Linked DNA regions of Homo sapiens: region 1 is linked to region 2. Evidence: fine-mapped expression QTL. A gene starts in region 2. The other region holds a variant in brackets. All regions are shown on one strand. Distances are between the middles of the regions.

Region 1 (8,333 bases), 81 kb after region 2:
CCACACAACCCCACTCCCTCTTTTGAGGCAAAGTTTCAGAGCTTATGTGTAAACTTGCAATACTCAGGAGGGAGAAGTAAAGTTGTTGACATACTTCTCTTGTTTCTCCGAGTATCTGTTAACAAAAATGCTAGCCAAGCCGGACGCGGTGGCTCACGCCTGTAATCCCAGCACTTTGGGAGGCCGAGGGGGGTGGACTGCTTGATGTCAGGAGTTCAAGACCAGCCTGACCAACGTGGTGAAACCCCGTCTCTTCTAAAAATACAAAAATTAGCCGGGCGTGGTGGCGGGCGCCTGTTATCCCAGCTGCTCTGGAGGCTGAGGCAGGAGAATCGCTTGAACCCGGGAGGCGGAGGTTGCAGTGAGCCTAGATGGCGTCACTGCACTCCAGCCTGGGCGACAGAGCGAGACTCCGTCAAAAAAAAAATGCGGTTTTCTAACGCGTTTCCCTTTCGATAATGTCCCTTCGACAAATATTGTTTTCCCACAACCACCCAAGCAGGCCAAGGGACATTCGATAGCAATCGCCCTAAATCTGTTGGCAGGAAAGAAGCCTCAACGCACAAAGGCAAGGGTCGAAAGCGCGGGTTCAGCAGACCGCCCCTACCCAGCCAGGACCTGGAAGCCGCGAGGCGAGCGGGGGGTCTCGGACCATCACCCCCGCGTCCCGTCCACCTTTGAGCCCCGCGGGGAGCAGAGCAGCGGTCCCAAGGCCCCGGGGAGCCCCCCACCCCAACTGGGCGCCGCTGGGGGCCCGGGACCGGTTCGCTGGGGCACCCACTGGGCGCGCACTCACCGACGGACTGCAGCGAAAGGCGAAGAGCAGGCGCGTCCCGAAGACGACTCCGGCTGCCACGACCCGGTCAAAGCGTGGGGCCCGCGGGCGCCCGGGCTATAAACCCCGCCTCGCCGCCCCTCCCCAAGCCTCCGCAGCACGTGACCCGCGGCAGCACGCCCTGTCCCAAGCCCGAGTGTCACCCTCGGGCACGTCCCGGCGCCCTCCCCCAACGCCGGCCCTCCTAGAGTGGTGGGGGCCCGGTCGGGTTGAGAGGGTGTGCTGCCTGGGCGAGGGGCCCCGCCACGGGGAGAGGAGCCTGTCGGGAGCCGGGCGGGGGCCCGGCCTGGGGAGGCTGGGAGTTGGAGGTAGCCCTGCCTGGAGTCGGGGCGCTGCCTGGAGTCGGGGCGCTGCCTGTGGTCGGGGTCCTGCCTGTGGTCGGGGTCCTGAGAGGCCCGGGGCAAATGGGGATGGCGCCCAGGCCGGCTTTGGGGTTTTGAAAAATGCAAACAAATTCACACCAACTTGTTGAACGGCGTTAGTCCTCAGAATAGAACTCTAAAAATGGAAGCGGTGGCTCACGCCTGTAATCACAACACTTTGGGATGCTGAGGCGAGAGGATCTGTCGAGCCTAGGAGTTCGAGACCAGCCTGGCGAAGATTTTTATTTTATTTTAAAAAATAGCCCAGCGTGGTGTCGTGCGCCTGTGGCCCCAGCTACCTGCGAGGCTAAGATGGGAGGATCGCTTGAGCCTGGGAGGTCGAGGCTGCAGTGAGCCGAGATCGCGTGGCGCTGCACAATGGCTTCTACGCTGTTATTTTTAGCGAAGTAATAACTTTTAAAAGTTTTGTGGCGGCTGGGCGCGGTGGCTCACGCCTGTAATCCTAGCACTTTGGGAGGCCGAGGCGAGCGAATCACCAGCCTGGCCAACATGGCGAAACCCCGTCTCTCTCAAAATACAAAGAAAGCAGCCCAGCGTGGTGGCGCGCGCCTGTAGTCCCAGCTAGTCCCGGCTGTTTAGCGGGGTTGGGGGCAGGCGGGTGGGTGGCTGAGGTGAAAGAATCTTTTGAGCCCAGGTGGTCGAGGCTGCAATGAGTCGAGATCGCGCCACTGTACCACTGCACCCCAGCCTGAGTGACTGAGACCCTGTCTAAAAAAAAAAAAAGAAAAGAAAAAAGAAAAAGAAAACAAAAAACTTAACTCCAGATCACTCCAGAATGACAGCTGCCTAGGGTTATGTGACATAGGCAACTTTATACGTGCAGGGTTATGCATTGTTTTTCAAAGACAACTTAAAACGTCATCTGAGTCCCAGTTGTGTTTTTTTGTTGTTGTTGTTTTGTTTGTTTGTTTCTTGTGTAAAACGCACAGATTTGGAACGAGATTATTTGAGCAGACAAGTTGCGCCAGCGCCCGAGGCCAGATAGGGCTCGTGGGACTTCTTCCCCCGTGAGTGGCGGGGGATTTCCAGATGAAGCTGTCCGGCCTCGGCCCCCACTCCCCCCCCCCGGCCCCCGACACAGCTCGCAGGGAGGATACAGCAGAGAGGAGGGTTGGGAGGTGGGAAGGGAGCAGGCGCTGGCGCCGCGGGTCCGCCCCCTGAGAGGCCCACAGCGTTGGAGTCCCTGGCTCCAGCCAGGAGGGACTGGCTTTGTGAAGCTTTGGAGTTGTAACTGTAGGAAGCTCTCAGAGACTTTTACCCCAATTTGTTTTCATTTTCTGTTGTTGTTGTTGTTGTTGTTGTTTTTTGAGACGGAGTCTCGCTCTGTCGCCAGGCTGGAGTGCAGTGGCGCGATCTTGGCTCACTGCAACCCCAGCCTCCCGGGTTCAAGTGATTCTCTTGCCTCAGCCTCCCGAGTAGCTGGGACTACAAGCGCGGGCCACCACGCCCAGCTAATTTTTGTATTTTTAGTAGAGACGGGGTTTCACCATGTTGGCCAGGATGGTCTCGATCGCTTGACCTCGTGATCCGCCCGCCTTGGCCTCCCAAAGTGCTGGGATTACAGGCGTGAGCCACCGCACTCGGTCTAACCCAGTTTCTTAACCAATCTTGCATGCACACAGATACTGTTGATCATATTTAAAGCTCCAAACGGACCCATTAAAATGGTATCCCTTATCCCATTATACCTGAATATATAATAGTACTTACTTAGCAAGAAAAATTAAAGTATTTTTACCCCTCCTCCCCACATGTAATTCAAAATAAAATACTAAGCCATAAATACTGAACCATAAAATGTTATGAAGTCCAAAAATGTTCTGGTTTGGGTTTTTTCCTATGTTGCCATCTTCAGTGTTTTAAGTAATTAAATTATTATGTTTTTCTTTTCTTTTTCGTGTTCCGGCGCTGTTTGTTCCCTAAGCAAATGTTTGCTCTGCTTATTGATAATCCATCCCTGCTCTAATGACCTCTTACTTTGCATCAGAAGACTCTCGCCCTTTCACCTACAAAATGCCTCCATCTTTTCCTTTTTTGTTTTAAACCTGTGAGTCATTTCCTCACTTAAGGCTGAGCAAGCTTCTTTTTGCTTTTATTTGCCTGTGAAGCAGAGGGCCCCAGGGAATAATTTTGGGAACAAGAGACTCTTCAAGCCCACAAAGGATGAAGCACATCAAATTCTGCATCCCCAACTGTTTTTCAGCTTCGTGAGTCTGAGAACATGAAACCAGTGGCAAGAATAACACCCAAGGTGAGATGTGTAGTGAAGGAAACCAAAAAATTTTACCCCAAAATATACTTCTTTCACATATTTTGAGATATGGCTGTTCAGAGGACCTGCAGGCGGAAGTAGTCCTACGAAGCTGTTTGGTGTGTGTGTGTGTGTGTGTGTGTGTGTGTGTGTGTGTGTGTGTGTGTGTGAGAGAGGCTTGCAATATACAGAGAAAATCTGCATTGATGCAGCCAGGTGCTCTCTGAGGTTTTCCCTCGTCCAGATATAGGAAAGGTTAATGGACAGTCTGACACCTTTAAAGGTCTGAAAGAAACATCAACCATCTATTCTTTCCAATGGCTACTACCTGTGAGGTTTCATCTACATGAGCGGTCCCCAACCTTTTTGGCACCAGGGATAGGTTTCATGGAAGACAATTTTTCCATGGACCAGGGCAGGGGGATGGTTTTCAGGATGAAACTGTTCCACCTTAAATCATCGGCATTAGATTCTCATAAGGAGCCGCAACCTAGATCCCTTGCATGTGCAGTTCACAGCGGCGTTCTTGCTCCTAAGAGAACCTAATACCAGCTGCTGACCTGACAAGAGGCAGAGCTCAGGCGGTATTGCTCACTCACCCGCCACTCACCTCTTGCTGTGCGGCCCTATTCCTAACAGGAATGTAAATGGCCACAGTGTAAATGGCCCAAAGTTTGGGGACCCCAATCTACATAATGAAATGACTTTTGCTAGCCAAGTTTCCATTTCTGTCTTGCCACTAAATCCTGATTTACCACCATTCTCTGAGCCCCCAAACTTTCTGTAACCTCAGGAGGGGTATATAAGCTTCTGAGCCCACTGAGAGGTGGAGTAATTACTCTGTGGTTCCCCCACATGCCCAATAATACATTTACGTCTTTTTATAATAATACATGTATATCTTTTGACCTGTTAATTTGCTTTCCGCCAGTTGATTTTTCAGTGAACCTCCAGAGGACAAAGGAGACGTTTTTCCTTGGCCCCTGCAGTAGGTTGCCATTAGATAGGGTGTGTACAGTGTGGCAGTCCTGGG[G/A]AGTGGCAGGACATTACCAAGGATTTGGCCAACCTGAGATTCCTGGAGGTTTTCAGGGTTTTGTTTGGTTCCCTCCAGGATTCGATTTACCGTCATTCAGCATCTGGCTCCTGTCTCTTTCTCACCAGCTTCTTCTCCGGACTTTACCTGTGTGAAAGGAAAATAAATCTTGGGACCCCAAAATCACTGAACCAAAGGGAAAAGTCAAGCTGGGGACTGTGTCACACAAACCTCCTATTCAAAGATAAGCTACATAAGCCAGGCGCAGTGGTTCATGCCTGTAATCTCAGCCCTTTGGGAGGCTGAGGCAGGCGATCACTTGAACCCAGGAGTTTGAGACCAGCCTGGGCAACATGGTGAAATCCCGTCTCTACAGAAAATACAAAAGTTAGCCGGGTGTGGTGGCATGCGCCTGTAGTCCTACTTGCTGGGCTGAGGTGGAAGGATCATTTGAGCCTGGGTGGTCAAGGCTGCAGTTGGGGACCGCTATAATGGAGACACTGCACTCCAGCCTGGATAACAGAGTGAGACTCTGTCTCAAAAGAAAACAAAACAAAAAAGCTACATACCTCCCTCATAATTTGCCCACTAGGAAATTCCTTGTGGGCCCCAAGATCTTTACCCTAAAAAGTTCTGTTGAATTTCATCCTCACAATGTAAATTGATAGCTTATATTCACAGATGTGGGACATAGGACAGAACACAATAGCATCCCTCTGCTCACCTGAGACAAATTAATATTTGATTGCTCCCTCTGGCCTATGTTTATTTTATCTTATTTAAAAATGCAGATTCACTGAGCTAGATGAATGCGTGACTATTCCTCTACCCCCCCATCTCACATGTCAATGGCTAATCAAAGACTCAAAGGAATGCAACCATTTGCCTCTTACTGGCCCACACCCCTTAACAATTTCTCCTCTCCCCAGTATCCACTCCTTTCCCCTTTAGATATTGAAACCCTCAAAATCATCTTTGGAGAAAGGCACAGACCTGTCTCCCATGTGTGTGTCCTTACCCTTGGCAAAATAAACTTCTAAATTGATTGAGTCCTGTCTCAGATACTTTGTGTTGCACCTATCTTAAACTTTAAGCTCTAGTCACACAGATTTACTTACAGTCCTTTGAACACATCCTATTATAGGATTCCTGTATGTCATTGCTCATGCTGTCTCCACCTTGTTCACTGGGAATTTATCCTTCAAATTCCCACCTGAGGGTGGTGGACAGATGCCACCACCCCCAGGAAGACCTCCCGACTACCTTAGATGGAATCTATCACTCAGACATCTTTGCACCTCTGTACTTTGTACATTTATGCTTGCCTTTTTTTTTTTTTTTTTTTTTTTTTTTTGAGACGGAGTCTTCACTCTGGAGTGCAGTGGCACGATCTGGGCTCACTGCAAGCTCCGCCTCCCGGGTTCACGCCATTCTCCTGCCTCAGCGTCCCGAGTAGCTGGGACTACAGGTGCCCACCACCATGCCCGGCTAATTTTTTTGTATTTTTTAGTAGAGACGGGGTTTCACCGTGTTAGCCAGGATGGTTTCAACCTCCTGACCTCGTGATCCGCCTGCCTCAGCCTCCCAAAGTGCTGGAATTACAGGTGTGACCCACCGCACCCGGCCTATGCTTGCCTTTATCACACAATATTATTTATGTGTTCATACATTCTTTTTCCTTGAGGTCAAAAAACTTTTTTTCTTTTTGTAACCTCTAGTTAACATATAATAATGCCCGCACTGAGCAGGTGTTCACTAAGGTGTTGAATAAATAGTTGAAACTGTTTCAGCTTGTGAGTGCCCAATAATTTTTTTATAAATATTTCCTATTTTTTATTTGTTCTTTTCTTTCTTTCTTTCTTTTTTATTTATTTTGTGTTAGAGATGTGGTCTCACTATGTTGCCCAGGCTGGTCTTGAACTCCTGGCCTCAAGCAATCCTGCCTCAGCCTCCCAAAGGGCTGGGATTATAGGCATGAGCCACGGTGCCTGGCCCCAACTTATTATTTCTTAGAAGTCACTCTTAATAAAATTATCGTGGATTATCAGGTTAACCAGTACTCATAACTGACCTATATAAATGCTTTGCAGCAGTGGTTCTCAAAGTGGGGGTCCTGGGTCAATAGCATTAGCATCACGTGGGAACTTAGAAATGCAAATTCTCAGGCCTCACCCCAAACCTAGTAAATCAGAAATTCTGTGTGTGGGCCCTGCAATCTGTGTTTTGATAATTCCTTCAAGTGATTCTTATAATTTCTAAAGTTTGAAAGCTACTGTTTTACAAATGTGTTTTCTCATGGTGGTCTGGAAACTATCAGAATCACCGAAGATGTTTGTCAAACGTTATGCCTCCTCCCCCAGACCTACTGAGTCAAGATCTATGAGGGGTGGGGCCCAGAAGCCTGCATTTGTGACGATAGGTGCCACCACTTTACTCTTCACAAAGCACTTTCCCATGTCGCTCATATTTGAGCCTCACAACAGCCTGGAAACTTGATGGAGTGGGGTTATTACTCCCATCTTAACAGTAAAGAAACAGTCTCAGATAAGTTATATGATCTGGCTATAGTTTTATGACTAAGCAGCAAGCTAGGCAAAATTAGATCCCAGGGGCATGACCTGGGCTAGTTACCTAATTTCTTTTTGTCTTAGTTTCCTCATATGTAAAGTGGAGATAATAATAGCTCTTCATGTTTTACGTAAAGGTTTTATAAGGCTGAGTGCGGTTGCTCACAACTATATCCCAGCTCTTTAGGAAGCTGAAGCAGGAGGGTTGCTTGAGCCCAGGAGTTCAAGACCAACCCAGGCAACATAGGGAGACCCCATTTCTACAAAAAAAATACAAAAGTTAGCCAGGAATGTTGGCGTGTGCCTATAGTCCCAGCTACTAAGGAGGCTTACGCAGGAGGATCACTTGATCCCAGGAGGTAGAGGCTGCAATGAGCCATGATGGCGCCACTGCACTCCAGCATGGGCAGCAGAATAAGAAGGCCTCAAAAACAAAACAAAACAAAAAACAGTTATATGAGTGTTCATTGTACTGGTCTTTCAGCTTTTCTGTGGGTTTAGAAAACTGTTTCAAAATGAAAAGTTTAGGTTGTTATACAGTGATAAGAGAGAATGAAGAGACCCATAACTAACCACATATATGCAATGTAATGTAAATGAAATGAAAGCAGTTACCTACAGGTTCATACCATACAAAAACAAAGTAAGCTCTGCTGTAAAAAGTAAGGATGGTAGTTGTTCTGCAGGGAGTTGGGGGTGGGAAGACTAGTGACTGCTAGGGGCCTTTTGGTGCTGGTAACTTTTTATGTCTTATTCTGGAAGCTAGTTACATACATGTGTATGCTCTTTTGTGAAAATTCATCAAGCTGTACACTTATGACATATATGTTTTTGTATGGATCTTACACTTCCAATAAAAAGTTGTGAGCTGAGAATGGTGGCCGATGCCTATAATCCCCGCATTTTGGGAGGCCGAGGCAGGAGGATTGCTTGAGACTAGGAGTTCAAGACCAGCCTGCATAACACAACGAGACCCTATCTTTATTAAAAAAAAAAATTTTTTGGGGGGGGACAGTTTTGCTCTGTTGCCCAGGCTGGAGTGCAATGGCGCAATCTCGACTCACTGCAACCTCTGCCTCCCGGGTTCAAGCAATTCTCCTGCCTCAGCCTCCCGAGTAGCTGGGATTACAGTCATGTGCCATCATGCCTGGCTAATTTTTTTTTTTTTGAGATGGAGTCGCACTCTGTTGCCCAGGCTGGAGTGCAGTGGCATGATCTCAGCTCACTGCAACCTCCACCTCCTGGGTTCAAGCGATTCTCCTGC
Region 2 (8,280 bases):
TAGGGAAACACCAGAGACACAGAGGACTGAAGTACCATATTGTAAACAGGATTAAGCTGGCCTATAAACTGAATATTAGCAACCTAGCTTTCTTCTCCCACTTAGTAACCAGAATGCTATTAATCAGGCTTATACACACCCCATCCCAGTAGAAGAATCCTGGGAGAATCTAACCAGCCAAAGAGCACAGGTCTAAATGAGGCAGGCGGCAAGACTTTCTTCAAAGAAATGGCCCAGTCATTTTAATGAACCTGATAGTCTTCAATGCTACCCACGGGTTTTTAAATAACTTTAAATAGGAGCAGACAACCAATGATCACTGAACAAATAAGGAAAGTTTCTAACATGAATATGCTCTATGATTTCCATAAACTACAGCAAAGGCCATTTTTGAACTTCTTTTACTGCCGGGCGCGGTGGCTCACCAACATGGAGAAACCCCGTATCTACTAAAAATACAAAAGTAGCCGGGCCTGGGGGCGCATGCCTGTAATCCCAGCTGCTGGAGAAGGCTGAGGCAGGAGAATCACTTGAACCTGGGAGGCGGAGGTTGCGGTGAGCAGAGATTGCGCCGTTGCGCCTGGGCAACAAGAATGAAACTCCGTCTCAAAAAAAAAAAAAAAAAAAAAGGAGAACATAAGGAGAACATACAAACAAAAGAAACTTGGAAGAAACCAAGACTAAACGGGATAAAAACTTTTTCTTAATGTTACTATTATCCTCAGAGAGATAAAAGAATATATTTAATCCAAGAAAATAATTTTATGTTTTTAAAAAGAACAATTAGAACAGCCTGTGGAAATTAAAAATATGATATTAAAATTTAAAACTCCAAAGAGTTGGAAAATTAGGATGAGAAAAATCTCCTGGAAAGTAGAACAAAAAGACAGAAATAGAAAATAAGAAAGGGTTACCAAAAAAATATTTAAAAATTAGGCAGGCCAGGTGCGGTGGCTCACGCCTGTAATCCCAGCACTTTGGGAGGCCGAGGCGGGCAGATCACCTGAGGTCGGCAGTTCGAGACCAGCCTGACCAACATGGAGAAAGGAGAAACCCCATCTCTACTAAAAATACAAAATTAGCCAGACAAGGTGGCACATGCCTGCAATCCCAGCTACTTGGGAGGCTGAGGCAGAAGGATCGCTTGAACCCGGCAGGCAGAGGTTGTGGTGAGCTGAGATCATGCCATTGCACTCCAGCCTGGGCAACAAGAGCAAAACTTCGTCTCAGAAAAAAAAAAAAAAAATTAAGCATAGTGGCACACACCTATAATCCTAGCTACTTGGGAGGCTGGCATGTGAGGATCCCTTGAGCCGAGGAGGTGGTGGCTGCAGTGAGCTATGATCTCACCACTGCACTCCAGCCTGGTTGACAGAGAAAGATCCTGTCTCTAAAAATAAATTTAAAAAATTTTTTTAAAAAGAAAAGAAGGCCAGGCGCAGTGGCGCATGCCTGTAACCCCAGCACTTTGGGAAGCTGAGGCGGGCAGATCACTTAAGACCAGCAGTTTGAGACCAGCCTGGCCAACATGGTGAAACCCCCTCTCTACTAAAAATACAAAAATTAGCCAGGTATGGTGGCAGGCATCTGTAATACCAGCTACTCGGGAGGCTGAGCCGGGAGAATGGCTTGAATCTGGGAGGCGGAGGTTGCAGTAAGCCGAGATAGTGCCACTGCACTCCGGCCTAGGCTGCTGAGCAAGACTCCATCTCAAAACAAAAACAAAAACAAAAATAAAACTTAGCCAGGCATGGTGGTGGAGGCCTGTAGTCCCAGCTACTTGGGAGGCTGAAGCAAGAGAATCTCTTGAACCCAGGAGGTGGAGGTTGCAGTGAGCCAAGATCGTGCAACTACACTCTAGCATGGGCAACAGAGTGAGACTCTGTCTCCAAAAAAAAGAAAAAAAATACATTAGAGGAGACTCCGTAAAATGTGATATCCAGACCTTAGGAGTATTCACATGACAGAATAGAGGAAATACATCATCAAACAATTCAAGAACATTGTTTAGAATTCAAGGGCATGGTTTCCAAATTAAAAGACACATTGGAGAGTCCAGTACAATGCAAATTTGGGCTCAACAATGCCAATTATCATTAAGTTTCAGAACACTAGAATAAGAAAATTTCGAATATGTTTTTAGAGAGGAAAGAATAGATCAAAACCAAGAAGCAGGCATCAGACTACTGGCTGCTAAAAGACGATGGAGCAACAGAGCAATGCCTCCAAGACTCTGAGGAAAAATTATGTCCAACCAATCAAGTGTGAGGGTAAAAACAAAGAAATTTTCAGACATCCAATCTCTTGAAATTTTTACTCTCCTCATACTTTTTATCTGGAAACTATTGGAACATGTGTTCCACCAAATGAGCCAAAAATGAGAAGATGTGAAATCAGGAAAAAGAATACCCAACTCGAAAGAACGGGGAAGGGAAACCCCAGAATGGTGGTGAAAGGCGATCAGATAAGAAGGCTCCAGAAGAGGTAGCACCAAGGAGATGAAACTGAATACATTGAGAGGAGATTTTCCACATACTATATTGTATTATGGAATTTCACTCTATGATTTCCATAAACTACAGCAAAGGCCATTTTTGAACTTCTTTTACTGCACACGTTAACAGTAGGAATTAAAATATTTTTTGAATAAATGAAAGAATGGAATACCTGAATTTGTACAGTACAGTATACACTTTGATAAGGGCTTTAGGCCAGGCACGGTGGCTCACGCCTGTAATCCCACACTTTAGGAGGCCGAGGCAGGTGGCTGGCTTGAGTTCCAGACCAGCCTGGCCAACATAGTGAAACCCCGTCTCCACTAAAAATACAAAAATTAGCCGGGCGTGGTGGCAGGTGCCCACAATCCCAGCTATTTGGGGGACTGAGGCAGGAGAATCGCTTGAACTCAGGAGGCGTAGGTTGCAGTGAGCTGAGATCGCGCCACTGCACTCCAGCCTGGGCAACAGAGTGAGACTCCGTCTCAAAAGAAAAAAAAAGGACTTTAAGGTAGATACAGAGGCTTCAGTATCCTGATGACTCTCATTCATTCTGTATGAACGATACTGGCGACACTGATTCACTCATCTACTTGAAGACCAAGAGCAGAATCATATTATGCTTTGAGAGGGGCACAGGGTAGCCTATTGTTAGGCAAATAGACCGCAGCAAGATTGTCTAAAACCAAATTCCATTTCATCATTTAGTATCTGTGTAACTTGGTCAAGTGACTTAACCTCTCTAACCTTTGATTCCCTAACTTGAAAATAGGGTTATTAATTCACAGGGTTACTGTGAGGATGGAACTAATGCCTGGGATTCCACATTATCATTTCCTCGAGCTTTGGAATTCTAATTATAAATTCTAAAGTCTGAGATTACGGAAAAGCAGATGTGAGAAAGGAATTAAAAGCACCCACTGGAAGCCAGGATGTCTCCTAGGAGGGACTTGCTATTACCTAGCTGCGCAGCAACAGGCAATCGCTTGCCTACAAGTCTCACTTTCCGCGCCTGCACAGTCTCCATCTGCCCTGCCCTTGTACTCACTGGGCCGGGCAAGCTGGGGAGGCCTAAGCGGACTGGGAAGTTAGGCTTTCCCTCCACTTCACCAGTCGGCTGCCCCTGCGGAAACCGGCCCGACACACCTCGCTCCTAAAGCCAGTTGCGGTGGTGGTGGCGGTTGGGGCTTTTTTTGGCCACGAGAGGGCAGCATTTCCCCCGGCCAACCACACACGTACCCCTAGCAACAGCAAACCCAGCTGCAACAGAACAAAAGACCGAAGTCCTCGAGCTTCCCTTCCATCTTAGGGCTCACGCCGCCCCGGTTAGGTTTCATTAGAGCAGCGGCTTTTCAAGGCTCGTCGGGCACGGAGGGCGGAGCGAGGGAGCTCTCGCGAGATCGCCGCCGGAAGTGGGTGGTGGCGGGGACGCAGCGGCTCCCTCCCGGAAAGCGAGCGTATCTCCCGAGCCGTTGCCACTGACAGCCGCGGGCGCTCCCATCTGAGTAAGAGCCAGCCCGTCCGCGGCCTCTCCAGCCCCGGGTTCGCGCTCTCGACTCTCCTGCCTGCCCAGCTGCGCGGCGGAGCGGAGCGAGGCGCGGCCTGCGAGTCCCCGGCAGCCCCCGACCCCTCCCTCGGCGCTGCGTGTAGGCCGCGCCCTCAGGCCCAGTCCGCGGTGCCCCGGCGGGTGATGCCAAATACAGCCATGAAGAAAAAGGTGCTGCTGATGGGGAAGAGCGGGTCGGGGAAGACCAGCATGAGGTCGATAATCTTCGCCAATTACATTGCTCGCGACACCCGGCGCCTGGGGGCCACCATTGACGTGGAACACTCCCACGTCCGATTCCTAGGGAACCTGGTGCTGAACCTGTGGGACTGTGGCGGTCAGGACACCTTCATGGAAAATTACTTCACCAGCCAGCGAGACAATATCTTCCGTAACGTGGAAGTTTTGATTTACGTGTTTGACGTGGAGAGCCGCGAACTGGAAAAGGACATGCATTATTACCAGTCGTGTCTGGAGGCCATCCTCCAGAACTCTCCTGACGCCAAAATCTTCTGCCTGGTGCACAAAATGGATCTGGTTCAGGAGGATCAGCGTGACCTGATTTTTAAAGAGCGAGAGGAAGACCTGAGGCGTCTGTCTCGCCCGCTGGAGTGTGCTTGTTTTCGAACGTCCATCTGGGATGAGACGCTCTACAAAGCCTGGTCCAGCATCGTCTACCAGCTGATTCCCAACGTTCAGCAGCTGGAGATGAACCTCAGGAATTTTGCCCAAATCATTGAGGCCGATGAAGTTCTGCTGTTCGAAAGAGCTACATTCTTGGTTATTTCCCACTACCAGTGCAAAGAGCAGCGCGACGTCCACCGGTTTGAGAAGATCAGCAACATCATCAAACAGTTCAAGCTGAGCTGCAGTAAATTGGCCGCTTCCTTCCAGAGCATGGAAGTTAGGAATTCCAACTTCGCTGCTTTCATCGACATCTTCACCTCAAATACGTACGTGATGGTGGTCATGTCAGATCCGTCGATCCCTTCTGCGGCCACTCTGATCAACATTCGCAATGCCCGGAAACACTTTGAGAAGCTGGAGAGAGTGGATGGCCCCAAGCACAGTCTCCTTATGCGTTGAATATTGCCAAATGCTCTTTCTGAAAATGCTGAATTGCCTTTTTTGTTTGCATCCTTTATTTTTAATATTCATAATGTCGTGTGCTTAAAAGTGGGCTTTGAAGTGTGTGCTGCTTACTCCTTTCATCTTTCTCCCCGCTTCCCCAGTCTTTAAACATTGGACGCTATTTACTCAGCTACCCAGTAGAGCTTGAAGCTGACCTTTCTGAGAAGTTGGTATGGTGTAACACTAAAGTAGGTGGTTCGTGTGTGTTCTCATTACCTGGTTATGATAGATATGCACATCAAAGCCTTTACCAGTATCTTCCTGTATTCCGTATCAGATTGCAAAGACGGAATGTTACTATTTTATCAGCAAGGTATTAAAATGCATTTATAAATTCTTCTTGGCTTCATTCATGAATAAACGTGTTAGCAATTTAAAACATGTCCTTATTTGAAATAACTTGAAAGTGCTTAATATGCAAATCTAAAAATTCTGACTGCCCACAAGTATTGCTTGACTGGCAAATTTGATTCTGTGAATTTAGCCCCCAGCACTTTAGTGATGTTTGGTAACAGCTGTAGAAGCGCTTATGCTATGGACTGAAGCTAGACCACCTGAGTTAGTATTCTGGTCCCTTCACTTACTAGCTCTGTGAACATGGGCAAATACTTAATTTCATTACACTTGTTTCCTCATTGGTAAAATGTGGGTCAGAATACTACTTTATAGCCAGTCGTGGTGGCTCACACCTGTAATTCCAGCACTTTGGAAGGCTGAAGTGGGAGGATCACCTGAGATCAGGAGTTCGAGACCAGCCTGGGCAATATAGAGAGACCCTCTCTCTACAAAAAAAAATTTTTTTTCATTAGCTAGGCGTAGTGGTGCGTGCCTACAGTCCTAGCTGCTTGGGAGGCTGAGGAGAGAGGATTGCTTGAGTCCAGGAGGTAGAGGCTGCAGTGAGGCATAATTGTGTCACTGGCCTCCAGTTTGGGTGACAAAGCAAGACCCTATCTCAAAAACAACAATAAAAAACCACTTGATAGGATGTTTAAAAGGATTAAATTCAACATGGTAAGTATTTAGGAATGGTGCCTAGCGCATAGCATACTCTGTTAACTACCATTACTACCTACTGAGCCATTCTTCCCCAAATTACTGGATATGAAACCTATTTGAATATTTGATCCCTTACTAAATGTCAGGTGTTCTTAAGCACTTGTGCATTTATCTTACTGAATCCTCACAACCTATGTGGTAGGTTACTTTGATCGCTATTTTAGCAGATGAGCAAACTATGATCTTATTAAGGTCATACAGCTAAACCCAGGCAATCTGACTACTGACTCTCCTAATCATTACACCCCATTACTTCCATTGAAAAGTTAACCATAAGAGTCATAGCTTTTTATTTATTTTTGGTTTGTTTGTTTGAGACGGAGTCTCGCTCTGTTGCCCAGGCTTGAGTGCAATTGCGCGATCTCACTGCAACCTCCGCCTCCCAGGTTCAAGCCATTCTCCTGCCTCAGCCTCCCAAGTAGCTGGGACTACAGGCATGTGCCACCACGCCCAGCTCATTTTTGGTATTTTTTAGTAGAGACGGGGTTTCACCACTTTGGCCAGGCTGGTCTGGAACTCCCGACCTCAAGTGATCCACCCATCTCAGCCTCCCAAAGTGCTGGATTACAGCCATAAGCCACTGCACCCGGCAATTTTTTTTGTTCTTATAACTTGCACATATCAGCACTGATGGGTCCTAGCTTTTTAAATGTAGATTATTCCTTCATATAATTCCAAATTTACATAGTGGGTAAGCTGAAGCCCAGGAAGCTAAGTGACCTCCCTCAAGGAATAGAGTTTCACTCATTTTGGGCAAGATCACTTTCCCATTTGTATTTCTCTAGAAATTGGATAATACTGAAACAGATTCTTAGATCACCTACTTTTAAGGAAGGATTCTGAGGTTCCTAATTTGGATTGGCAATGTGGTGTAGTAAAATGGACAAACAGATCTAAAATGTCCCATTCCACTTCCAGCAATAGCTGCCTTAAGGATTGTTTGAAAAGAAATCTAAGTATTTTAGAGCGAAGAGACCTGTGATCAACTCTAAGCCTTTCATTTTACACTCGAGGTGCTATCTTTGTATGGACAGTAAACATAAGTGATAGGGCTTTAGAATTTCTAAGGCTTTATAAAATTATTTAATGTTCATTAAACCCTTTCTAGCAGCAGATGTGGATGACGCTACTCATGAAGAGTAAGAAGCTATTCAGGTGTAATTTATAAAAATTACCTAATTAGGGCCATTGGCAATACATTAGTATAAAGACTCCAGATGTGTAAACTGACAGTATAGATATAACCTTAAAAATTCATTTTAAAATACTATATACTGTAAATCTAGTAATTAAAATGGAAGTAACAAAATATGTTGACCTGAATCACTGAACCTCTCAAATTTGTTGATCAGGTTATTAATATAACTTTACATGTGATCATCTTATGATTTGCAGGGGCATAGTTCTTTTTGAGATTATATAGGAAATTCCAGAGCCAGATAGTATAAAATATTTATTGAAAACAACAGTATTTAAAACATTTACAGAGAGTCCCATAGAGGATTCTCAAATATTTTAAACTTAGGATGCAGACTGCTATTCACAATGCATAAAGAAAAAGGTGATCTCTAGAGCAACTATGTATCTGCAACATAAAAGAAACATTTACTTCAATGCTTTTACATTGAGGAAAACGTCATTAAACGTATTTTAATTTTAGTACTCTCACAGTAGGAAGATAATAGTCTGCTTTTACACAGGTCTCCAGAATTCCTGTTTTTCCTTTAGATAAATTTGACTTCATAGTCAAGAGTCTCATGGTAAAGAAAAGGTATCAAAATACTCATATTTTTGTTTTCAGCTCAATTTCCCCCAAATGTTAACTTCAGCTATTCTTTATTCCACTTGATGACATTTTTCATGTTTAGCAACATTACATGGTTGTCCTCTTTAAACATTTAAAATAATTAGAACATTTTAGCATTATCTCAGGTTTCAAGCTGATGTATGTCAGTTTATATACCTTTGTATCTTACAAATAGTAAAACAAAGTACATTCTATATGTCTGATATTAATGTAATAAGAAATCCACTTAGAGTAATAAATTAGCC

Which allele goes with the higher level. Positions count from the first base shown, and alleles are read on the strand shown. Sizes are in standard deviations (SD) of each study's normalised expression.
With allele A in place of G in region 1, the expression in monocytes after LPS of the gene that starts at base 3,953 in region 2 is lower (moderate effect, 0.60 SD a copy in Quach 2016).

What was found.
Region 1: its variant is fine-mapped to the expression of RRAGA in monocytes after LPS (Quach 2016, PIP 0.95).

The regions. Positions count from the first base shown.
Region 1 is chr9:19,126,623-19,134,955 of GRCh38, forward strand. PLIN2 (perilipin 2) reads right to left here and starts at 870. Exons shown (of 8, transcript NM_001122.4): 1 at 797-870. RefSeq lists enhancers at 116-626, 627-1,136 and a silencer at 649-1,208. The variant G/A (reference allele first, on the strand shown) is at 4,503.
Region 2 is chr9:19,045,475-19,053,754 of GRCh38, forward strand. RRAGA (Ras related GTP binding A) reads left to right here and starts at 3,953. Exons shown (of 1, transcript NM_006570.5): 1 at 3,953-5,551. The coding sequence starts at 4,186. The coding sequence ends at 5,127. It overlaps HAUS6 (HAUS augmin like complex subunit 6), which reads right to left. Exons shown (of 17, transcript NM_017645.5): 17 at 7,667-8,280. It also overlaps a transcript of SAXO1 not described here. RefSeq lists an enhancer at 3,893-4,414 and a silencer at 4,022-4,211.